7 linked regions of the Homo sapiens genome follow. The protein of the gene in region 1 interacts with the protein of each later gene in a biochemical or structural test. Each region holds a gene or a part of one and is shown in the gene's direction. Other genes may lie near its edges. The genes, in order: TRIM23, UBE2W, CYTH1, UBE2D4, LGALS8, UBE2N and CYTH2.

Evidence for each region.
Region 2: the proteins of TRIM23 (region 1) and UBE2W form a complex in vitro, tested with the Homo sapiens proteins (one study listed by BioGRID).
Region 3: the proteins of TRIM23 (region 1) and CYTH1 form a complex in vitro, tested with the Homo sapiens proteins (one study listed by BioGRID).
Region 4: the proteins of TRIM23 (region 1) and UBE2D4 form a complex in vitro, tested with the Homo sapiens proteins (one study listed by BioGRID).
Region 5: the proteins of TRIM23 (region 1) and LGALS8 form a complex in vitro, tested with the Homo sapiens proteins (one study listed by BioGRID).
Region 6: the proteins of TRIM23 (region 1) and UBE2N form a complex in vitro, tested with the Homo sapiens proteins (one study listed by BioGRID).
Region 7: the proteins of TRIM23 (region 1) and CYTH2 form a complex in vitro, tested with the Homo sapiens proteins (one study listed by BioGRID).

What each region holds. Positions count from the first base shown.
Region 1 is NC_000005.10:65,610,834-65,614,333, reverse strand, and holds part of TRIM23 (E3 ubiquitin-protein ligase TRIM23), read left to right. Parts: intron 1-114; coding exon 115-236; intron 237-478; exon of another isoform or gene 479-607; intron 608-2,452; coding exon 2,453-2,731; intron 2,732-3,290; coding exon 3,291-3,473; intron 3,474-3,500.
Region 2 is NC_000008.11:73,809,363-73,812,862, reverse strand, and holds part of UBE2W (ubiquitin-conjugating enzyme E2 W), read left to right. Parts: intron 1-2,233; coding exon 2,234-2,389; intron 2,390-3,500. UniProt on the Homo sapiens protein: Accepts ubiquitin from the E1 complex and catalyzes its covalent attachment to other proteins.
Region 3 is NC_000017.11:78,695,274-78,698,773, reverse strand, and holds part of CYTH1 (cytohesin-1), read left to right. Parts: intron 1-393; coding exon 394-505; coding exon of another isoform or gene 506-506; intron 507-2,764; coding exon 2,765-2,767; intron 2,768-3,500. UniProt on the Homo sapiens protein: Promotes guanine-nucleotide exchange on ARF1, ARF5 and ARF6. Promotes the activation of ARF factors through replacement of GDP with GTP.
Region 4 is NC_000007.14:43,943,436-43,946,935, forward strand, and holds part of UBE2D4 (ubiquitin-conjugating enzyme E2 D4), read left to right. Parts: exon of another isoform or gene 1-1,513; intron 1,514-2,698; exon of another isoform or gene 2,699-2,889; intron 2,890-3,500. UniProt on the Homo sapiens protein: Accepts ubiquitin from the E1 complex and catalyzes its covalent attachment to other proteins. In vitro able to promote polyubiquitination using all 7 ubiquitin Lys residues, but may prefer 'Lys-11' and 'Lys-48'-linked polyubiquitination.
Region 5 is NC_000001.11:236,540,982-236,544,481, forward strand, and holds part of LGALS8 (galectin-8), read left to right. Parts: intron 1-672; coding exon 673-729; intron 730-1,779; coding exon 1,780-1,806; intron 1,807-1,933; coding exon of another isoform or gene 1,934-2,059; intron 2,060-2,578; coding exon 2,579-2,667; intron 2,668-3,500.
Region 6 is NC_000012.12:93,405,184-93,408,065, reverse strand, and holds the end of UBE2N (ubiquitin-conjugating enzyme E2 N), read left to right. Parts: 3' UTR 1-2,382; downstream 2,383-2,882. UniProt on the Homo sapiens protein: The UBE2V1-UBE2N and UBE2V2-UBE2N heterodimers catalyze the synthesis of non-canonical 'Lys-63'-linked polyubiquitin chains. This type of polyubiquitination does not lead to protein degradation by the proteasome.
Region 7 is NC_000019.10:48,479,369-48,482,814, forward strand, and holds the end of CYTH2 (cytohesin-2), read left to right. Parts: 3' UTR 1-2,946; downstream 2,947-3,446. UniProt on the Homo sapiens protein: Acts as a guanine-nucleotide exchange factor (GEF). Promotes guanine-nucleotide exchange on ARF1, ARF3 and ARF6. Activates ARF factors through replacement of GDP with GTP.

The sequences.
Region 1 (3,500 bases):
TAAAAATTTAGACATTAACTACTGAACTATATTAGAAATTACTTTTGAGGTATGGGTAAAATGATTAATAGTCCATTTTGTTAGATTTAGTTTTTGTTTTTATATTTATTCTAGGTGATTCAGGTGTCTGGGGATTGAAAAAAAATTTTGCTTTATTGGAGCTTTTGGAACGACTGCAGAATGGGCCTATTGGTCAGTATGGAGCTGCAGAAGAATCCATTGGGATATCTGGAGAGGTATTGATCATACTTGGTGAAATATTTGTTACGAGCATGAATTTTTCTTTTAATAGATGCCATTATTAGCACAATATTACTTCATTTATTTCAGCAGGTAAATTTCTAGAAACACAACTTTTCATTACATTACAGTTCTGAAGGCCAACACTATTCCCAAGAGAAAAAACTAGAATTATTTGAAAATCCTATGCCTAAACTATGCTTTATGTGTGAACTTTTTTTTCCTTATCATAATTCAGTTCTACCAAGAATAAAGTGAAAAGAGGAAGAAGATTATGGAATAGTAAGAAAGATATGTAAGCAACAGTAGAGAAGAGGATGCAAAAGTAGTCAACAGTAAAACTCAATGAGAGAAAGAAAAACTCGATGTAAGAGGCCATTTAATACAGAGGGGAAAATGCCTTAAAGATAGCAGTAACTTCTGAGGGAATTGTTACTGTTATAGCTTCAAGAAAAGGTTAAACTTTGTATAGATGTACTGTCTTTATCCATACAGGTAGATGTCTAGTAAATATCAGAATCCATGAACACTGGATTTTAATAATGTAAAAGTATATTTTTAGCACTTATGTGTTTGCATAGCTGCACATATGTACTATAGGACATGGCTTTCGTAGGCTGTTATGGGTAAAAATATATTTGGAGTAAATATCAGTTAATGATTTTGGTGATCAACTTGCAAACCACATATTTTGTATGAAGGAAAAAAAATGTCGGATTGCTTTCACTTCTCTTTCATTAGATGATGATTTCTTTATACTAAAGTGAATCAGTGAAATGAATTTCAAACTGCAACACTCTGTTTTCTAAAAGTTATGCAGTTCTTTCTGTGCTAAATCTTTAATCTTTATTTCAAAAGACATTACTGTTAGCTAATGTTGACATTATAGTTTATAATTTATTTATTTGTCAGGTCTGGGAAACAGAAGACCTGAATTTTTATGGTACATGTGTTTATTTCTCATAATTGCAAACAAAACTCTTCCACTTTGGATTCATTTTTTATTTAATGTGATAAAGAATGACACCATTGATGTATTTAAACATTTTTATTTTTGAAAAAATTTATACTAAATTTCTCCCCTTCCAATTATGGCCTTTTAATATTGAGTAAAAGTGTTCAAAACATTCTTGATTATCTGACATGTAATTTTTTATCTACTTGAAATAAAAGTAATTATTTCATAATTAGTTATTTTTTGTAATTCCTGAAAACTAGAAATAATATTTACATGCTTACATATAGGTTTTATTTATTTGTTTATTGTTATTTTTTAAGACAGAGTCTCACTCTGTCACCCTTGCTGGAGTGCAGTGGCGTGATCTCAGTTCCCTGCAGCCTCCACTTCCTGGCTTCAAGTGATTCTCGTGCCTCAGCTACCTGAGTAGCTGGTATTAGAGGCATGTACCACCACACCTGACTAATTTTTGGATGTTTAGTAGAGATGGACTTTCCCCATGTTGGCCAGGCTGGTCTCTTACTCCTGGCCTCAAGTGATCACCTGCCTCAGCCTTCTTAAAGTGCTGGGATTACAGATGTTAGCCACTGAGCCTGGCCTATTTTTTTTTTTATTTGCTTAAATCAGTGGTTTTCTGCCGTGATTGTGCAATAGACTCACCTGTGGAGCTATTAAAATAACATGGCGTATAATTAGAAAAATATATACAAGTCTAGGGTTCATCCACAACCTGTTGAAATAAGAATTTCTCTTCCAGACAGCTATGTTTTTAAAAGCTTACAGCTAATTCTGATGCATACTCCTACATTTTCTAAATAGCATTTGTGCTTCTGTCCTTCCTATACATCATCATGACAACTAATATTTAAAGCTATGGGGATGTATTTAATATCAGATTTTTGTAGTTTTACAGAAAGACTTTTGACTTCTCTATGGTTTAGTTTCTTTTGTGTAAAGTGAGGGGATTTGGTGGAAGAGATCTTTGCACCGAATATGAATCTATGAGAATAGTTCTATTTTTGGCTTCAAATTCATAACATATATTGGCCAGTTAATCTTGGAAATAGCTTCTTACCCCTAGAAATGAATGCTTCTCAGATGAGTATTGAATGACCTTTGTTCTTAATGACCAATATATTTTCATATGTAAATATTGTTCAGTTAAGCAAAAAGGATTATGGATTCTATATTTAAAAATTCGTCATGTTATACTGATTGGGTTCAATTTTAAGGCATTAATTTTTTGTTTATCAGAGCATCATTCGTTGTGATGAAGATGAAGCTCACCTTGCCTCTGTATATTGCACTGTGTGTGCAACTCATTTGTGCTCTGAGTGTTCTCAAGTTACTCATTCTACAAAGACATTAGCAAAGCACAGGCGAGTTCCTCTAGCTGATAAACCTCATGAGAAAACTATGTGCTCTCAGCACCAGGTGCATGCCATTGAGTTTGTTTGCTTGGAAGAAGGTTGTCAAACTAGCCCACTCATGTGCTGTGTCTGCAAAGAATATGGAAAACACCAGGGTCACAAGGTATGAATTTAATTATTAATCAGTTGGATCACTGTAGCTACTTTACCAGCTCAGTATTCGTTTTCACTGACCTGGTTCTTTATTCTGAAAGTAGGGATTGAAGAAGAGTTAAGTGATGAGTGATTGGGTTTGGTAGCATGAAAATAAATGAGAGATTTAATTTCTGAATGTTATAAAAAAAAAAAAACTTCAAAGAGGCATCATGATTCTTCACAAAAAAATAGCTTTCGAGCAGGAAACAAACATTCTGTTTGCTTGCATGTTTTCATAATGCACCAGATTGTTTTGACAATATTTATGTCTGTTAGCTCTTACTTAGGATATGATTTTAGAGATAGTCTCTTGGTTTTTTGTTTAGCAATAAACGGACTTCCAAATTTTAAATTACTTCTTTGCAGTACAGTTTTCTTATAAAGGAGTGAAAGTAAATTAGTATTTTTCTGTGTCATAAAAGTCACTTGTGGCTGATGCTTTTTTGTATTAATAGGGATTTAAATAGTTTTTTATATTATTAGTCAATACTATGAGTTCTTTTCTCTAATTATGGTACATTTTATAGCATTCAGTATTGGAACCAGAAGCTAATCAGATCCGAGCATCAATTTTAGATATGGCTCACTGCATACGGACCTTCACAGAGGAAATCTCAGATTATTCCAGAAAATTAGTTGGAATTGTGCAGCACATTGAAGGAGGAGAACAAATCGTGGAAGATGGAATTGGAATGGCTCACACAGAACATGTATGGATTTTTTTTCTTCTTCACTTT
Region 2 (3,500 bases), on another chromosome or scaffold:
CAGCTAATTTTTTGTATTTTTTAGTAGAGACGGGTTTTCGCCATGTTGGCCAGGCTGGTCTCAAACTGCTGACCTCAGGTGATCCACCCACCTCGGCCTGCCAAAGTGCTGGGATTACAGGCATGAGCCACACCGAAAAATATCTTTTAAAAAAATAATTGTGGCCAAAGAAGAAACTCTTGGGTATTGCTTGTGTTTTAATGAAAATATCCTACTGGTCAAATGGCTTTTTATGGCAAAATGAATACCTCAAGGTAGATGTCCGTAAGATTTGTAAACTCCCATTCTGTACATCTACAACACATGGGAGTATCAGATGCATATGATGTAATAAACTATAGTTCATATTTATGAAAAATAAAATTTCATTAAAAAACAGTTGTGGACAGACTCCAGTGTGGAACTATAAGACCATGTAAGCATTTGTTTTCTTTTACAGAGCAATACTTTTTTTTAGCAAAAAGTAATGAAGAGGGTACTAGCACCGATAGATGTAATTGAGATAAATGTCATGCATAGAGCGTAGCCATTACAAAATCAAAGTCCTTTCAGGGAGTCTTCTGCAATTAGGTAGGATAAGTGACTTGATTTCTCTTATTTTGAGACTTTACTTTTGTTTTTTAGCTTTTTTTTTTTTTTTTATTAGTGGGAATGGAGAGTTGATGTCCAGAATTTAAAGAAAAAAAAGAAATAGATGCAAGTATGGAAAATCGTTCCTTTGGGAAAAAAATGCCTTTTGCTGTCTTATCTAGTCTTAGCCAAGGAAATGTGTCCCATATGTTAGTTAATATATTTGAAATATTAGAAGACTCTACTCATATGAAAGACTGCTTTATTAACATGTAAATCTTTGTAAAATTGTAACATTGTAACAAAATCAGATTCATAGCTAGATATTTAAAATATATATAAAACTTAGCTTATGGTAATTTCCTATAACATATTCCATATTAAACTATAGCATACCTTATTCTATTCATATTTACCTCACTGGTTCTTTTTTCTGCTCTATAAAGAGAAAAAAGGGTATGCCTAAAGCAATACTGTATATCTTTTATCAGTTTCTGCTATAACTTAAGGTAAGATTTCTCCTTACTGATATTCTGTTGTACTTGGGTATGAGGCAGTTTGCAGGGCTGAGATACTGTAAATCTGATTTAGGAATTGTTGGTTTATATCTGATGGGTTTTATAAAAATCTAATTATACTTACTAAATTAGAATCTGTGAAAGCAGGACACTTGAATTTGTATTTTTAAGCAGATCTTCCAACTATGTGTTCTTTTGTTTTTTTGTTTGATTTTTGGCGAGGTCAGGAATTAGGAATTACTGCTAACCTGTAGAATAAATATAGTACACAGTGTAAACATAAGACTTCTGCTTTCTTCGAGCAACTTTGGACTATGCTTACAGATTCCTCAGGATATATGAATTTATTCTCCTGCCTATTTGCTTAGGTAAATAAGTTTAAGAAAAACTACTTTAAGATATTTGTTGAATTATTAGAGCAAAGGAAGGAAATAATAGATTTATTACCATTCAAAACATTGCTGAGACATGATAGAGAAAGGAAAAACAGTGTTACAGAAGAATTGAGTAAAAGGGAAAGGAGAGTAAAACTGCAAATTGGGAGACTTGGTCAACTTTTGTATTTTTCGTCTAGGCACATAGTTATTTACTGATTAACAGCTAGTAACTTGTACCCATCATAATGGATGTGTAAGTTTAGAGGAGGTGGAATATATAACAGTCATTTCCCTTTGCACATGTGCCTTAGAGCTAACATTGTTAACAGGTAGTAGTAGGAGGAATGTTCCTACCACCTGTCATTCATATTTTCCCAAAATTGAATATTTTTGTTTGGAATTTTATCATACTTGATTTTTATATGCAGAGAGCAATGAGCAAAATCTGAAAAATCATTCTTATAAATGTAGTTGTCTTTCACTAGTAAAAAATACGTAGTTTAGAATTTTTAAGGAGAATTTATCAAAAATAACCGAAATAAAAAATAATTTGGCATCTTTTCCCTACTATGTGGTTATTCGTTCAGTGAAACCAATACTTACTGAGTTAATGAGAGTAAACAAATAAGCAGTTGTTTATCATGTTCCTGGCACTGATTTTGGTGGTTTTTTGTTTTTTTATAATCAATATTTGTTATATGTGGAGAATATTTTAGTTTTTGGTAGTAGAGAATATTTGAGTTTTAATGGAATTTTATTCTCTCTTAGGTCATGTTTACTGGTGAAAATATTCCTGTTCATCCTCATGTTTATAGCAATGGTCATATCTGTTTATCCATTCTAACAGAAGACTGGTCCCCAGCGCTCTCAGTCCAATCAGTTTGTCTTAGCATTATTAGCATGCTTTCCAGCTGCAAGGAAAAGGTAAGACTTTTCAGAATTATTCCAGATAATATCTCTTCTTTCAGTTAGGTAGATAAATAATTTTAATATGTAATTATTTTTATTTGGAGGAAGGATTTATGCTTTTTATTTGAAAATTATAGGGAATTTCATGTTTAGTAATAAATTGGAAAGTTATTTTGATACCTTTCATTCCAAATAGAAGTTTTACATGTTGAATGGGGTAGAAGCCAGACTTACTGTTTTATATTCTTTTAAACAGGAAATGTACGGTATTTTCTTAAAGCTGATTTTATTCCCAAAAGCATGCACAGGTAAAAGTATACAAGAAATTCTTTTTGTAGATTTCACAGTGGAAAGCCTCAGAAAAGTGCATCATAGCTTCCTTCTCCCCTCTGCCAGCTCCCACCCGATCAACCTGTTTCAGGGAATTTTTCAGGAACCAGAGCTTCCCTGTCCTAATGATTAGGTTGAAGGAGGAAGACCAGTTTACCAGTCGAATTTTCAGGGCGTTTCTTCCTGTTCTCCTTTATTAATCCACAGATTCTATGTCTGATGGAAGTGGGGGGAAAAAAAACAAAAAGAAAAAAAATCACTTAATTAAACTTAAAATGTAGGCTGGGCACGGTGGCTTACACCTGTAATCCCAGCACTTTAGAAGGCCTAGGCAGGTGAATCACCTGCGGTCAGGAGTTCGAGACCAGCTGGCCAACATGGTGAAACCCTGTCTCTACTAAAAATACAAAAATTAACTGGGTGTGATGGTATATGCCTGTAATCCCAGCTACTCAGGAGACTGAGGTAGGAGAATTGCTTGAACCCAGGAGGTTGCAGTGAGCCAAGATCATGCCACTACACTACAGCCTGGGTGACAGAGCGAGACTCCATCTCAAGAAAATAATAATGAAATAAATTTAAAATATACATATAAATTTAGGATACCCTTTAAATGTATCTGAATCCTCTGTACACTTCTGACACTCTTGTCATTCCTGCTTAAGGGTTAGTATAGCATAACATTTATGTATTTCTACATTTTAAAACCCCTCTTAAATCCCTATGAGGGTTTTCCTTTTGCATTCTGTTTAAAGGAGAAACAGCTTTGCCCTAGAGGTTAGGGAGTTATTTGTGT
Region 3 (3,500 bases), on another chromosome or scaffold:
TGGGAACAGGATCGTCTTTTGTAGGAAGGAAGAAAAAACATACAATTTATCAAGGGTCTCCTCTTTTAATTTGTTTAACCATGTGAATTTCATTAAGAAAGTGGTAGTAAGGCCCAGCTAGGGAATCAGGGAGGGGACAGTGGTTTGTAAACATGAAACTAAAAGCTTGAATAGAAGTCAGGCTGCTTCTTTATTTTCCTAATTGGGAAGGCTTATTTATTTTGTCACTGTGAGCTGCCTGAAAGCAGAAATGGTCATAATCTTCTAGTCTCAGCATCTAGCAGGCTTGGCTTACTATAGGCACATGAATGCTTGTGGAATGAATGAAGAGAAAGGGGAGGAGGAAAAAATATTTCTAGAATCAGAGACATAAATTGTCATCTTTTATCCCAGAATCTCTATGAGAGCATAAAAAATGAACCCTTTAAAATCCCAGAAGACGACGGGAATGACCTCACTCACACTTTCTTCAATCCAGACCGAGAAGGCTGGCTATTGAAACTCGGTAAGCGCACCTCTGAGTCAGGGCTCCTAAAGCTGAGACTTAGGAAGAAAGGCGGTGTGTGTGCGTGTGTGCGTGCGTGCGTGTGTGCGCGTGTGCGTGTTTGTGCGTGTGCATGTGTGCGCGTGCGTGTGTGTGCACGCGCATGCATGTTCACACACATTCATGGACACACACGCACCATGTAGGAAAGGGGGTGGCTTATAGAGGACTCCAGAGAGACTTTGGTATGAGTTCTGTTCTAACAAAGGTCGGCTTCCAAAAGGGAAGTGACTTCATAGTCATTGCCCCCATGGGACACAGAGACTACTGGGGACAGACTTACTCCACCATAAATATTGCCCACATGTGTCTGTGCTCCACATTTTTACCCTTGAATTGGTTGACCAGGTTTTGTTTCAAGGCAGTTCCCTGAGCACCTGGTCCGTTTGCCTTCCCTGTCCCCATAACCACTGGGAGGGTGGCCGACCTTGTCCATCTTTCTACTTCCCATCCCACAGATTTGTACCTGGCGCTCCTGCCCCCACCCCAGTGCATCGTCACTTCCTTCTGCATCTGGCTCCCCCACAGGCAGTGTGCATGGCAAGCCTAGAGCCCTTGGCTGCAGCTCAATCCACAGCACTCTTACTCATTCTTGGGCAGTGGTTTTTTTTTTTTCTTTTTTTTTTCCCCTCCTTTTCAATCTGAATCAGCCACATTAATTATTTTGTTCATTTAGAAAAGCTGAAAATGCATTTCTCTTCCCTTTGCCAGAAGTGATGAGCTTGTATTGCTGAGATTTGTGGTCATGCCTTGCCGTGAAGGTGACAGGGTAATCAATAGGAAAGACTTTAGTAGGGTTTTCATACACATTCATGTCCACATGTGTTTACTTTATTAATGGTTTCAGAACATAGAGCTCTAGACTCTCTGGACATAATGATGTCCTTTTTTTTTTTTTTTTTTTGGACACTAGCAGGGTACTTTCCTCTGTTGCCTTCTGCTTTAGCCTTTGATGAGTTGGGTTCTCACATTAGCAGGGGCTGTTCCGTCCTATACCAGCCCAACTGCTTGCCCCAGTGATTAGAAGTCAGTACTCTCTTGGTCATTACTGACACATCTGGGAAGGCTAAAATGGAATCCTTTATTTCTGACTAGGTCAGATAGCAGTAGACTTTATATTTCCTTTTAAAGTCATATCCCAAGTCCTTGTGCTTATACATAATGACTTAATTCATAAATTCCCCTTACAGCACCACTTCACCGATCAGTTTTAAATATCTCTTGAATTGGCCATCATTTTATATATCTTTAAGCCCCCAGAATCTTTGAAGTTAAGGCTCTAAAATTACTAACCCCATAGGCAGCCTTCCCTTCCACATTCCTATTGCCAAGTGGATGGAGTTGAAAGGAAACCTACTGGAAACGTTTAAAGTGTGTTCAAGTTTGGATTTACTTCCCCCTACAGCGAGATTTGTTTAAATGCTAATACTAAGTGTTAGCTTTGACAGCCCAGATACTAAAATTAGAACAGTACAAAGATTATCTTGGTTCTTAGACCAGGATGACATGCAAATTCATGAGGCATCTCGTATTTTAAAAAAGAGAAAATTTAACCAAGTGTGGGACTCAGTTTTAGCTCATTGCATTACTTTTTCTAAACCTCCATCAAATCCTTCTAGACTCTGAATATTGTGTTTTCATTGTAGCACACTTAGTATCACTCTTTGTGTTTATGTGCTGCAGAAGGCAGGGCTTCCAGCCGTCTGTAGCTGTGTGTATATGTCTGTGTATGCATATAGCCATAAGAATGTGTATTCTTGTGTATACACATCAGTACATGTGTACTCATGGGTATATGTGTGTGCATTCTTACACACACTTTAAAAAGTGACAGCCATCTCAAGAAAGACATTTAATTTTCCCTGAAATAACCTTAGCTTTCTTTGCTCTGATTCTGGATATACTAGTAAACATTGGCTTTGTAAAAGCCGATTTGTGGCATCTTTGGGGCCAGGTTTCCAGTAGTGCCTCAAATCTTGCCTTGATGAGGTGGAACGTGGCATGTAAGAGCCCCTCGTTCACGTGCCAGACAGTAGTGGGATCATTTGCCCGTTGAGTGTTTTTAGTTCAGCTCTCTCCCCAGGCAGGCATGAATGTGACTGATACATTGCACTTTAAGATTAAGGAATCGGGTTTAATTTCTTTGTTTTAATTTTCTTTTCTCCCTCATTTGTATGTTTCCATGATTTTGGCTCTCCTTTTCCTTGCCCCAAACTCCAGGAGGTATGTAACCCTCAGCCTGCTCGCTCGCTCTGCTAGGCCACTGTCATTACTGCAGCATTTTCTGATTTCGTTATTTTTGGTTATTTTGTTTTTTAATTGCCGGTGGTAGTGTTAATGCTGCTTCTAACTTATTGTACAGTCCCTAGGGAACTGGTCAGGATCAGGGGTTTGGAGCAATTTTCGTTTTTCTTTTTTGGAGGAGTATATGTTATATTCATTACTGAATGCAGTAATGCAAGAAAACATACTAAGAGTGGGTTTGTAAAAGCAGAGGAAGTTTCCATGACATTTTCACTTGGAATTATTGGCTAAGACATGCGCTATGTTTGATATTCAATTTGACGTCCATTAATCAGCCTGATTGAAAGTTAATCTCTGACGTGGGGAAGAGGAGAAAGAAGAGAAGGAAGTCTTTCTTTTTTCTTCTTTTTTCAAGCTGAGACTTACTCCAGAGAGAACAAAGTCTTGACTTCCCAAAGCTATGGAAAGCTTCTGATTTACCATGATGGAAAAGCAAACTAGGGAAAGAACTAAATTAGATGATACTTAAGACATTTGCCTTTGCACGAAAAGGGGAAATGGTATTTCCTAAACTCAAAATGATACCGAGTGAAGGTGAAAAAAACAAGTCCAAACCAAAAAACCCTCCCTGAAGTCCTCGTGTTTAGTTTCCTGGGGATCAGAGAAGGGTATTAACAGCCTCGGCTCTGTTGTTATGTTTTGTTTTGCTCCC
Region 4 (3,500 bases), on another chromosome or scaffold:
GTGGTGAGGGAGTACTACTGGTATCTAGTCGGCAAAGGCCAGGGTATTCCAGGGATTCCCTGCAGTGCACAGGAGAGCCACCCTTCCCATGACAGATAATGATCAGCCCCAAGTGTCAATAGTGCCAAGGTGGACACACCCTGGTTTAGGACTGGTGAGTCACACCTTCACTTTTCTTTATTAAGTTAAAAGAATAGCAAGCCTCCTTTGCCCTTCATGCACACACCATCCCATCAGTGGAGCTTTAGAGAGCAGTGCCACCAAAGGGAAGGAGAAGCCCAGGGAGCTGCCTCGACCACCCTGCCCTAGCATGTCTTGTGCACCGCAGGTCGTCTCACTCCCTGGACCCTTGGACCTCGTACTCCTTCTCACCTGGGCTCTGCATGGGTGGCCGAGCCTGCCCTGAGGCTCATAGTCCTGTGGAGGAGACAGGGCATTTAGCATGTGAGCTACTCAGCACTGGGAAGGAGCACAAGCAGTGGTTGGCAGCAGGAGCCAGGGTGGTGGAGAGATTGCCCTGAGAAAGGGGAACTGCAGGAGCTCAGCAAGAGGGCGGACAGGTCCCCAGGAAACTGCCCCAGGGGAGTGAGCCTGTGAGGAGTTGGGAAGGAGGCCAGAGGGGTACGGATGGCCCCAGGAGTAGGGTCTGCACGCCGTTGTGGGGATCGCCACACCGACACAATCACTCTGCTGCCTTGTGGAGAAAAGGCTGGGGTTCAAGTGATTCTCCTGCTTCAGCCTCCTGAGTAGCTGGGACTACAGGCACTCGCCACCACATGTGGCTAATTTTTGTGTTATTTTTAGTAGAGACAGGGTTTCACAATGTTGGCCAAGCTGGTCTCGAACTCCTGGCCTTAGGTGATCCACCCACCTCCGCCTCCCAAAGTGCTGGGATTCCAAGTGTGAGCCACCACGCTTGGCCAGGTTGTGCATTTTGTCAAGACTTACTCGAAAGTCCTGCATCTGCATCAGACCCCTTAGCTGAGGGGTTGTGATATTGCTATGTCTTACTACCTTGACTTGGCCTTGATGCCTCAATTTGAGTCAGAGGCTTAGCTGCTGTTTTGCATGTTGTTTATCTGAGTCAATGTGAAGAAGCCCCTTCTGTGCTCACCAGCTGCAGCTCTGTCCAGACATCGCCACCAGAGGCTACCTGGTGCCTGAGCATTTTAAATCTTTGTTAAATATGCTTAGGATCCCAGAGACCTTTTAAGCTTTTAGCAAGGGAGTGGAGTGTGCTGAGCAGGACAATGACAGATGCTAAAATAGCTTCACCACATTGGAGTACAACTGCTGTTCAAGGGAGTTTGGTTGAAAAATCATAAGCATGCTTCATGGTGCTGTGATCCACCCCTTCTCCCTTCCCCTCTGGAGAGACTGTGGCAGAGTCTTATCAAGTAGTAATTTTCTAGCTTGTCTCTTTCATTACTGTGTGAGCAGCTGAGGATTTTCCTTAAACAGATACCAATGTAGTCCTGAATGTCTGTTGGGCATTTTCAGCATACCTAATTGCCTAAGGACAAAGGAGAAACAGTGATTATTATTATTATTTTTTAATTATTATTATTATTTTTGAGACACGGTTTCACTCTTGTCTCCCAGGATGGAGTGCAGTGGCACAATCTCAGCTCACTGCAACCTCCGCCTCTCGGGTTCAAGCGATTCTTCTGCCTCAGCCTCCTAAGTAGCTGAGATTACAGGCACCCGCCACCACGCCGGCTAATTTTTTGTATTTTTAGTAAAGATGGGGTTTTGCCATGTTGGGCAGGCTGGTCTCAAACTCCTGACCTCAGGTGATCCGCCCACCACGGCCTCTCAAAGTGCTGGGATTACAGGCGTGAGCCACCGTGCCCAGCCAACAGTGGTTATTATTAAAAAACTAAGAAGTAAGCTCTGTGGGTGAGTTGGGATTATTTTAACAAGGAGAGATGTGAGCTGAAAGGTGACAGTGACACTCTATGAGAGAAGAAAGTGCTTCTGTCTTTTAAAAATCTCCTTCCACAGGGGAACAGGAGCAACGATTTATGTTTTGGCACAAATTTTCTGACAATAGGAGGAATCTGGCAAGATTGCATGATCTTTATTGGAGATATTGAGGCAGATACTTAATGTCTGCGATGATTTTGAAGTTTGACCCTTCCTGGGAAAAATTACAGATGTTCAAGCTCACATGCACACAACTCTCTTCTCATATTCGAAAGTAAGTTTAAAAAAAACTATTAAAAACTATATCAAACATGCAAAAAATTGTAGATAATGATATAAAGGATGTTTGTGCATCCTCCATCTAGACTAAGAAGTACCAGTGAGTTCTCAAAGCTAGCGGAGGAGGCAAAATCCCTTTTTTTTTTTTTTTTTTTTTTTTGAGACGGAATCTCGCTCTGTCACCCAGGCTGGAGTGCAGTGGCGTGATCTCGGCTCACTGCAACCTCTGCCTCCTGGATTCAAGCAATTCTCCTGCCTCAGCCTCCCAAGTAGCTGGGATTACAGGCATGTGCCACATGCCCGGCTAATTTTTTTGTATTTTTAGTAGAGACGAGGTTTCACCATATTGGCCAGGCTGGTCTCGAACTCCTGACCTTGTGATCCACCCACCTCAACCTCCCAAAGTGCTGGGATTACAGGTGTGACCACTGTGCCCGGCCGGCAAAATCCTATGTTCCTTTGCCCCAGCCCCTGCGTTGGGGTCACTGCTCACCCAGAGGGAGTGTAGGTGAGGCAGATTCTTAGGCTCCTATAGCAGTACAAGCTGCACCTGACTCAGAGCACCTTGCACATCACAGACAGCGGACTCTTCATGGGTCCCACAACATCCCTGGGAGAGGTACCATGTACCTACTTATAGTGAAGGCTCTGAGGTCCAAGGTCATTTGAAGAAGTAATGTGTGGCTGTGGTTTAAAAAAGAAAAAAAAAGTCAAATGTAGGACAGTATACAGTAGAAAATAGGACCTTCTTTAAACTTTGTCTCTCTAGCCACGCCTGGCCCCCCCGCCTTTTTTTTCCATAAGGCATTGAGTCCTACTTGTCTTTTCATTTCTCTTCCAAGAGTAATCTCAACCTGGATAAGCACTTGTTTGTGCTTCCTTGTTTTTCCCATGAATGGAACAGACCTTTCCGTGAATCTGCATCTTGCTTTTCCCATAGCAATATATCTTGGAAATTGTTCCATATGATCACATTCATGTTTTAAAAATTCACCTCATTCTTTTTAAACAGGTGTAATATTCTGTTGCTTATATATAACATTAATTTAACCAGTAATCAATCTGAAGACATTTAGGTTTTACATCTTTTGTTACAGTGGTTATCCTTACATATTTGAAGTGCACAAGGGTATTTTAGGGCTAAATTCTGAGAAGGGGGGGTCTTAGAAAGGGTGAAGTAGAAAGGTGGGGAGGGTTTGTGGCCTGGCAGAGGGTCCACGGCCTGAGCTTCTCTTTTTCTTTTTTTTTTATTATTATACTTTAAGTTCTAGGGTACATGTGCACAACGTGCAGGT
Region 5 (3,500 bases), on another chromosome or scaffold:
CTAGGCTGGGAGTGCCTGAGTCAAAGAGCACAGTCATGTGTTGCATAAGGACAGTTCAGTCAAAGATGAACCACATATACAACCGTGGTCCCATAAGATTGTCATATACTGTATTTTTACCATACCTTTTCTATGTTTAGGTAAGTTTATATGCACAAATACTTACCATCCTGCTCTGGTTGCCTACAGTATTTGGTACAGTGCCTGCTGTACAGATTCACTGGCCAGGAGCTATAGGCCACACCCTACAGCCTAGGTGTGTAGTTGGCAGTACCATCTAAGGTTGTTAAGTAATATTCTGTGATGTTTGCACGATGACAAAAGTCATGTAAGGACACATTTCTCAGAACATACCCCCTTCGTTAAGCAACACATGACTGTCTTTGCATTGAAAATTTTGATAGATACTAACTCGCCCTTCACAAGGGTAAAAACAGTTTGCACTCTCAACAGCCATGCTCCCACCTTCTTGCTGACATTACATCTTATTCTCTGTAATGTTTGCCAATCTGATGGGGGGCGGAAAGGACCACAGTGTCAAGTGTATTTTTGGATCATAGTTTTCAAGCATATTTTTAGTACCATTTATAATTTTTTTATATGTCAATATAAAATATTTAGAAAATATTTTCTACTGGATGTTACAAATTAATCTTTATTATCTTTTCTCAGGACTTACAAAGTACCCAAGCATCTAGTCTGGAACTGACAGAGATAAGTAGAGAAAATGTAAATATTAAATCTTTTAATGAGCCACTGGTTTAAAAATGTTGTTTTAGCTGCCATGTTAATGAAATGGCAAGAAGGCTGGGTTTTTGAAAATTATGCTTTTAGAACGCAAGTAATCACTTGAAAATTGAGATACATACTTGTGGTGCCAGGCACGCAGTAAGTTTTTGCTGATGATTCACCTGTCAGTTTCTGTAACTGCCACTCACTGTTCTTATGTAAAAAGCACTCTCTCACTCTTAACTGCTGAATAGTACTGTTCTGGGGTATTTCCAAATATTGAACATCAGCCAGTGCACTGGCAAATGAACTTCCATGTGTATCTTCAACCCCTGGGAGAATAACTGCAATTTAAAAATGCGCTGTTATTAATGGAGAAAGTGAGGTCTTACCGACTGGCACGTTCACACCTCACAGACAGAACAGAATCTTAGCATTCTGGGGGCACCCTGGAAAGGACAACTAAGACACGTTTGAAGTTCATGTAGTGCTGGGTGAAGGTGGTGGCTCAGGCCTGTAGTCCCAGCGCTTTGGCTGAGGTGGGGGGATTGCTTGAGCCTAGGAGTTTGAGATCAGCCTGGGCCACATAGGGAGAACCCCATCTCTACAAAAAATTAAAAAATTATCTGGGCATGGTGGCGCATGGCTGTGATCCCAGCTTTGGGTGGCTGAAGTAGGCGGATGACTTGAGCCCAGGAGGTTGAGGCTGCAGTGAGCCATGATTGAGCCACTGCATCCCAGTGTGGATGACAGAGTAAGACCCTGTCTCTTAAAAAAATTTCATATAGTTCTATGAAAAATTATTAATTTATGGTGGAGGATAAAGGACTCAGATGAACAGGGATATCAGACTCTCTTCTCAACCCGTGTAGCCCTTCACAACACCATACCATTCCGTCATAAAGCACCAGCTGCCTGGAGGTCACACCAGAGTGGAGCAGGAACATCCCAGGCTCCGGCCAGGCTCAGCTCAGCACAACCAAGACTTCAGATTATAAACTATAATTCTTCCCCTTCTAACATTGTTGTGTTTTGTTTCTTTTCCAATAGGTTCCAAAGTCTGGCACGCCCCAGCTTGTGAGTATTTTTGCCTGGGTTATTTCATGTGGAATATTTTATAAAGTTGCATAGAAAATGAACAGTTTAAACCGTGGAGGGCAGCTTCATTCATTCCATTCCTTACTGTAGAACTGTTTCCCTACAGCCTAGTAATAGAGGAGGAGACATTTCTAAAATCGCACCCAGAACTGTCTACACCAAGAGCAAAGATTCGACTGTCAATCACACTTTGACTTGCACCAAAATACCACCTATGAACTATGTGTCAAAGGTTTGAAGAGCACCAAATTTTCTTAACTCTATATAAAAATTAAGTTGTAATGAGCTGTTACGAGTAACCTGTATCCACAATAGAGGCCCAAAGCAGCCCCCTCTGCATTTGTGTGCCGTCCCTGGACGGATTCGAGAGTCAACCAGGCCTGCCTCTGAGCCATTCCTGTGTATTTCCTCAGCACCTCCCTGCTTGGCTGCTTCCCCTTCAGGCAGAACACAGTACTGCCTCAGACCCCAGGCACAGGGGGCCTTCCTGGCGTGTTTCACTCATACAGAGGGCATCGGGTCCCACCCTGTCACTCATTTCATCGTCTAAAATGTAATCATGTGTGTTTGCTTCGAGCCAGGGACAGTGCTGCTGCAGGGGACCCAGCTGGGACCAAGGCAGACTGTCTCTCCCCTCCTGGGATTTACAGGGTCATGGCTCTGAAACATTCCGTAGTGTTCTTTGGACACGAGTTTTCCCTGGAGATCGCTTTCTGCAGGCCTCTTGGTCCTGACTGTGGCTTCTTTTCAGAGGCTGCCATTCGCTGCAAGGTTGAACACCCCCATGGGCCCTGGACGAACTGTCGTCGTTAAAGGAGAAGTGAATGCAAATGCCAAAAGGTCAGTATCCTTCGGTACCAGTCACAGTGCAGATACTTCCGTGCCTGTTACCGCCTTCCACCCGTGAACGGTCCTGTGAGCTGGAAGAAGGGCTAGCGTCAGAATCTTCATTTCCAAAGTGAGATGATTCAAGCAGGAGGTGGTTAGATTGTGAACAGCCAGTGGGCAGCAGAGCCGACTAAGGCCGTGTTCTGACCTCGGCTTTTTCTGGCCAGACAAGAGAGTAGCATTTTTGTCCACGAGGCCTATCCTTGCCTTGTAGAACTCCAGAGCAGCCCCGTAAGATCAGGCAACATCTTTTCTTTTTTTTTTTTGAGATGGAGCCTCACTGTGTCACCCAGGCTGGAGTGCAGTGTCACAATCCCAGCACACCACAACCTCCGCTTCCTGGGTGTTCAAGCCATTCTCCTACCTCAGCCTCTGGAGTAGCTGGGATTACAGGCGCACCACCACGCCCAGCTACTTTTTGAATTTTTGTATTTTTAGTAGAGACAGGGGTTCACCATGTTGGCCAGGCTGGTCTGGAACTCCTGACCTCAAGTGATCCGCCCACTTCGCCCTCCCAGTGCTGGGATTACAGGTGTGAGTCACCACGCCCAGCCCAGGCAACATTTTTTAGGGCCCCTCTTGTCATGTGATTTAGAAAATTTCTGCTTTAACAACTTTTTCCACAGACGTCCAGCCTTCTGAAAGCTTGAAATTAGAGCTATTTCCTAGAAAGTGGCATACTTTCAAGAAGGAAGGAACACGGGTAGATGATGAAAAGAGAATACCTGCTTGAGAGGATCCCAGGCTCCTGCAGCCTGAAGTAGTCATTCAGTTTAGCGTTAAAC
Region 6 (2,882 bases), on another chromosome or scaffold:
AACCATGAAATTCCAGATTTAAATCTGTTGCACTACAAAAATGTCTAAATGATGTCTGCTAAATTTGTGAGTTATAGAAGTACAGAAATAAGTCATTTTCATTTCAAATGCAGTGAATTTCTAATTTCATGGTATCATATTTTTTTCCTTTGCAGTTTTGGTAAGACTCCCCCATTACTTTGCTAAGACTTGCTTTCTCAACCAGTGGGATGAAACGAGTGCCAGTGTGTTGACTGAGCCTTCTTAGGACTTAAGGGGCTCTGGGAGAGGCCAAGGCAGCAGTTGAAAACTGCAGCTTCACCTGGCCTTTGGGCCTGTTTTCCCTGGCCCACACAGTGTGGCTGGTTAAAACATTCTGAATTTGATGCCAACATTTTTAAAAATTGGGAGATTTGCATGAAAATCCAGAATTCGGGTAACTTTTGAATGATCTGAAGATCTGGCAACAGTAGACCTGACCCACCTTTGTGCACGGGACTTAACTGAGAGGATCTGAGTAGCAGACACCCTAAGAGCATGTCATTGTCTTCTCACCAGTTACTCTCCAGTTGGCTAGAGTCCCCTCCGAGCACACCTGCTAGTCCTTCCCCCTTGTAAGCCTTTGACTTTGTAATCCCTGGGCTAAAGGAAACACATTATTCAACAAAAGTGTTTCATGTTTGCCCACTAGTTGTTGGGGATGATTAGGTGGTGAGTGAATGGCATGGGGCTTTCCTTTGGGGACCATATACTCTAATGGGGAAGGGGGACAGACAAATAGTTGTAACTCTGTCATGGAAAAGAGAAGTAACTTGGACAGACTTTTGGATTCAGGCCAGATGAACATCTCCAGGCAGAGGGAACAGCAGCATCTGCAAAGTCCTGGGAGAGAAGAAAAGAATCTGAACATTAAGTGGCTTCCTGAAAATCGACTGCCCAGGCCGGGCACAGTGGCTCATGCCTGTAATCCCAGCACTTTAGGAGGCCAAGGCAGGAGGATCACTTGAGTCCAGGAGTTTGTGACCAGCCTGGCTAACATAGTGGGACCCAGTCTTTATTTAAAAGAAAATTGCCCGTTAAGAGGCTTTTCTAAAATCTTGAGGTGTTGATAGGAGCTTTATGTTTTTTGACTTGATTGTTGTAGTCTACTTCGCTGCGATTTGCTTCTGCTCTAGTTATCCTTCATCCTCTCAAAGGCTGTCTAGCAAGATCTTAGGTCTAAAGTAAAGTCATCTCTTGGTATTTGTCGGGAACTGGTTCTAGGACTTCCTTTGGATATCCAAATTCGCAGATGCTCAAGTCTCTGGAATAAAATGATGTTGTATATGCATACAATCTACACAAATCCTCCCGCTTATGTTAATATTTAGATTACTTATAATACCTATTATAATGTAAGTGCTATGTAAATAGTTACACTATTGTTTAAGGAATAATGACAAAAATATACATGTTGACTACAGACACAATGTTTTTTGGAATATTTTGTCTGGTTGTTTGAATCCACGGAAGTGGAACCCATGGATATGGAGGGCCAACTATATAGAACCTTACTCTAGACCAAGAATGTACTTGTAAAACAATTTCAAAGAAGCACTTAAAAATAAGATTAAATACAAACCAACAGATAAAAGTCACAGGTGCTATGGTTGTTTGATGGAGAATGGGGAAGGAAATCTGTCCTAAAAGACATTATAAACACAGTGACCTAAGTGGAACTAAATTGGATCGAGGAAATGATAGGAATAGGCCTCATTTTTCTGTTGAATGGTTCAGGAACCTTTTTTTTTTTTTTTTTTTTTTTTTTTTTTGGCTGCTCTAGCCACTTTCTAGCTCTGTAGTTTAGGCTGGAGTGCTGTGGCATGATCTTGGCTCACTGCAGGTTCTGCCTCCCGCGTTCAAGCGATTCTCCTGCCTCAGCCTCCTGAGGAGCTGGGACTACAGACACCTGCCACCACACCTGGCTAATTTTTTGTATTTTTAGTAGAGACGGGGTTTCACCATGTTGGGCCAGGATGGTCTCCATCTCCTGACCTCGTGATCTGCCCGCCTCGGCCTCCCAAAGTGCTGGGATTACAGGCGTGAGCCACCGTGCCCAGCCCTGCCACATCTTTTTTGTTAGTTGCAGTAGCAATACAACCTTATCTAGAAAAGCTGGCCAAAAAAGAAAATACCATGATAATAGGGTACCTAATTTATTGCTTTATTTAAGAAAAATGTAATATTTCATTCGAATAAGTACTTTTGGGCTGGGATGATATTTCATTTAGCTACTTGGCATGCCACCCATCTTAGGGAATTATATGAGGGTTTATACTTTAAATAACATAAAAAGCAAAACATGCTGAATGTAATAATTTGAGAGAAGTGTAAATAATAAAAATCTGTCATCTACCACCTGGACTAGTAATATATTGTTTGTTTTCTTAACTATACACTCACCCCTGCACTCATCTCCATTTTATCGTGGAAGTCAGGTATATTCCAAGAGTTGGCTTTATGGTACTAACTTGCCATTAGCTGCCATGCTGGGAGCTGGACTAAAATTTTTCCTCTTGTGTGGAATCCAATATTAAGAGTTCGGGTCTCCCCGGCCCTCTCCCAGTTTCATCTTGTCACCCTTGAGCTGATCTCATTTCATGTGTCTTGTATGGCCCTGCTGGGTGGCACTGGTAAGTGTATGAACATAGACTTGATACCAACCTCTGTCTCTACTACTGAATTGATCACATGATTTTTCTTTCTCAGTTTTATTTTTAAAGACTCCTGATCCATCTTACCATATGACTGCTTTTGAAATAGTTCCATGATGTAGATTAGTAAATATCGATAGTTCTTAAGTTTTATTATAACCTAGTAAGTTTACAAAGTCTCCTGGCTTAAGGTCGGGAGTAGATATCAGA
Region 7 (3,446 bases), on another chromosome or scaffold:
TTAATTATTTAACCACTTGGCCTGCTGACCCCCTCATTTCTTGGGGTTGACAGAGTCGAGGTGCTCCGTGGAGCCAGCCTGTTTCCCTGGACAGGGGCCTGGACCCGCCTGTCTCTGGGTGCTGCCTGGGCTGTCCCGGTGGGTCTGTTCTGGTTTCACCCCGAGCCCAGCAGGAGTGGAGTAAAGGGAGAAGGTTAATATGGTGGGAGTCTGGAGTTGGAATTGGCCGGGGACAGAGTTTAGAATGCAGGGATTCAGGGTCAAGGTCTAGCATTCATTCTAGAAGTTACTTGACAGCCATCAGCCAGTTACGCTACAGCCATCAGCTAGTTCCCATCGTTGCTTTCATGGGGCTTGAGGTCTTTGAGGGGCAGGAGATGAAGCTGGTGAGGTTGTGAGCTGGGCCAGGGCTTTGAGGACAACCTGGAGCTGGAAGAACATGCGACCACCTCAGGGAGGGTCAGGGAAGGATGAGTGGGGAGGTGGCCCATGTCCTGCAAGGGCCTTGCTGATGGGATGTCCTGAAGGGCTGGGCAGCCTTAGATCGGGCTAAGAGGGCAGGACTGTGGGCCAGTGCCAGAGCCAGGCTTGTCTGTTCTCAAAGGATCAGCCTCCTTTGGAGGACATTTTGTGTCAAGGATAGGGCTGAGGACCTGCGTTCTGAACGTCTTTCCTGGGATTCTTGACAGCCAAAGAAATTCGAGGATCGCCTCTATGAAGGTGAAGTCTTGGCATGTGGGGTACCCCTGAATCCTGGGCTAAGGTCTGTGACCTTTTGCCCTCCAGTTGGGGTATGTGTGGTGTCCCCAAAGAACAAGGGCTCGTGGATCCCGAGCAGGGTGCGATGGCGGATTGGGAGGTCCCATGTCACTCTCCCATGCCCGCCTTTGAAGCTGAGGCGCTCTTTAGTTAACAAACTACAAGTCCCAGCAGGGACCGGGACGCGGGTGGGAGAGGCGCCTGTGGCCCCGAGGCGTGCCGCGAGTTGTAGTCCCTCCTGCCCGCTGTGTTCGCTTTTGAGCTCTCCGATGGGATGCGGCGCTTCGGAATTTCGGGCTTTGATCCCTGTCCCGCCCTTGGCCACAGGCACCTGCCGGCCTGAAGGCCCCCGCGGTGGGGGTACCCTGCGCCCCTCCGCGGGAAGGTGGACTACAGTTATCGGCAGGCTGTGCGGCGCCAAAGCCACGGTGACCCAGACCCGAGGTTTTTCCGGGCGTCGCAGTTTCCCGAGACTCCGTGGCGGCGTTTGTCTTCTTTTTCTTAGTCAGATCCCGTACTTTTGTGGAGGGTAGAGGAGGCTTTGACCGCCGCGGCCCCGGGGGCTGGTGGGAAATGGAGTTCCAAATGAGAAAATAGAATTCCCCACTTCTCTTTCCCACAGGTGCCAGGGAAACGGAGTCATCGACCCAAGAAGGTCGTGGGAGATGAGGTCCCAGGGTAAACAGCGGGTCCCGCCACTATGTCACCCTTTCCTGCCGCCTCCCCGGATGAACTGCATGCAGGGCGGCCGGCTCCGTGGCAGGCAGAGGCAGGAAGAGGCGCGGAGCCCGCTGGTGGCGAAGAGGGGAGTGCGGCGGGAGGGGAGGGCAGAGGCAGGCGGCCGGTCGCGTGGGGCCTGGGCCGCCCCAGGAGGGCCTCTGGCTGGATTCTTAGCAGATGGAAGCCGTGCAAGGGCAGGAGGCAGGGGCCTGACGTGTTTGGATTGAGGTTGCAGGAGGGGCCCCTGGCTGCTTCAGGGAGAATAATTTGGAGGCGAGCGGGGAGGTGAGAGGAAGCTGTGCGGTGCAGGATGGCGTGGCTGTGGAGGTGGAGAACGTTGGGCCACGCTAGGAGTCTTGAAAGAGGAGCCAAAAGGACTTGCTGAGAGCCGCCGCAGCTGGTGAATGACGGTGCCATGACTGAGGTGGTCGAAAGGGAGTATTTAAGGGGAAATCAGGCATTCCGTTTTGACCAAATTAAGCTGGAGATGCCTGTGGAACATTCCAGCCAGGCTGCATCACGTCACACTGACCTTCAGCATTGCCCACAGTCCATCTTCCCCCAGGACCTGAGGATTTTGCGTCCGGCTCCCTCCTCGCCCAGGACCCCCAAGCTCCCAGCACGCTTCTGATTTTTTTTGTAGGTTTTTTTTTTTGTTTTTTGTTTTGTTTTGTTTTGTTTTTGAGAGGGAGTCTCACTTTGTGCCCTAGACTGGAGTGCAATGGCGCCATCTCGGCTTACTGCAACCTCCACCTCCCAGGTGCAAGCGATTCCCCTGCCTCAGCTTCCCGAGTAGCTGGGATTACAGATGTGAGCCACCGTACCCAGCTAATTTTTGTATTTTTAGTAGAGACGGGGTTTCACCATATTGGCCAAGCTGGTCTCGAACTCCTGACCTCAGGCGATCCATCTGTCTCAGCCTCCCAAAGTGCTGGGATTACAGGTGTGAGCCACCGCGCCAGGCCTCAGCCCACTTCTTTTGGGTGGCAATGGTTTGGATATCGTTTGTCCTCACTAAAATTCATGTTGAGATTCGAGCCCCAGTGTGGCAGGTGTTGGGATGTGGGGCCTCATAAGGAGCTGTGTGGTCTTGGAGGTGGAGTCCTCATGGATAGATTAATGCCTGCCTTAAGGGGTGAGTGAGTGCTCACCCTTGGGAATTTGGGAATTTGGTTTTCTCTCCCTTGCTTCCTTCAGCACCATGTGATCTCTGTGCACACAGCTGCATCCTTCTGCCCTCCCCCAGAAGCAGCAGCAGCCTCAGGGATGAGGGAGGTCCTCAGTGAGTGCACCTGCCCAGTCTTGAACCTTCCAGCCATCAGAATCTGAGCCAAATCAACCTCTTCCTTTATAAAGACCCAGCCTCAGGTCTTCTGTCAGAGCAACACAAAATGGACTCAGCACGGATCAAATTGTGTCTCCCCCACCCCCACAAAAAACTTTATATTAAAATCCTAACCCCCAGCATCTCAGAATGTGATCTGATTAGGAAATAAGGTCATTGCAGATATAATTAGTTCAGATGAGGTCATTCATGTGGGCCCTAATCCAATAGGATGTGTGTCTTATAAAAGTTTGTACAGAGACCCAGACACACAGAAATGACACCATGTGGAGGTGAAGGCAGAGATTGGGGTGACGCCTCTACAAACCGAGGAAAACCAAAGCTGCCGGCACACCCTCAGAAGCCAGAGACCGGGGACTCATCCTCCCTCACAGCCTCAGGAGCAGCCAGGGCTGACACCCTCATCTCAGACTTCTGACCTCCAGCACTGGGAGACCTTCAGTTTTTGTGATTTAAGCCACTAATTTTGAGGTACTTTGTTATGTCAGCCCTAGATAACTAACCACTCCTCCCTCAGACCCAGGAGTCCAGGCCCAGCCCCTTCTTCCCTCAGACCCAGGAGTTGGGGACCCCGGCCCCTCCTCCCTCAGACCCAGAAGTCCAGGCCCCAGCCCTTCCTCCC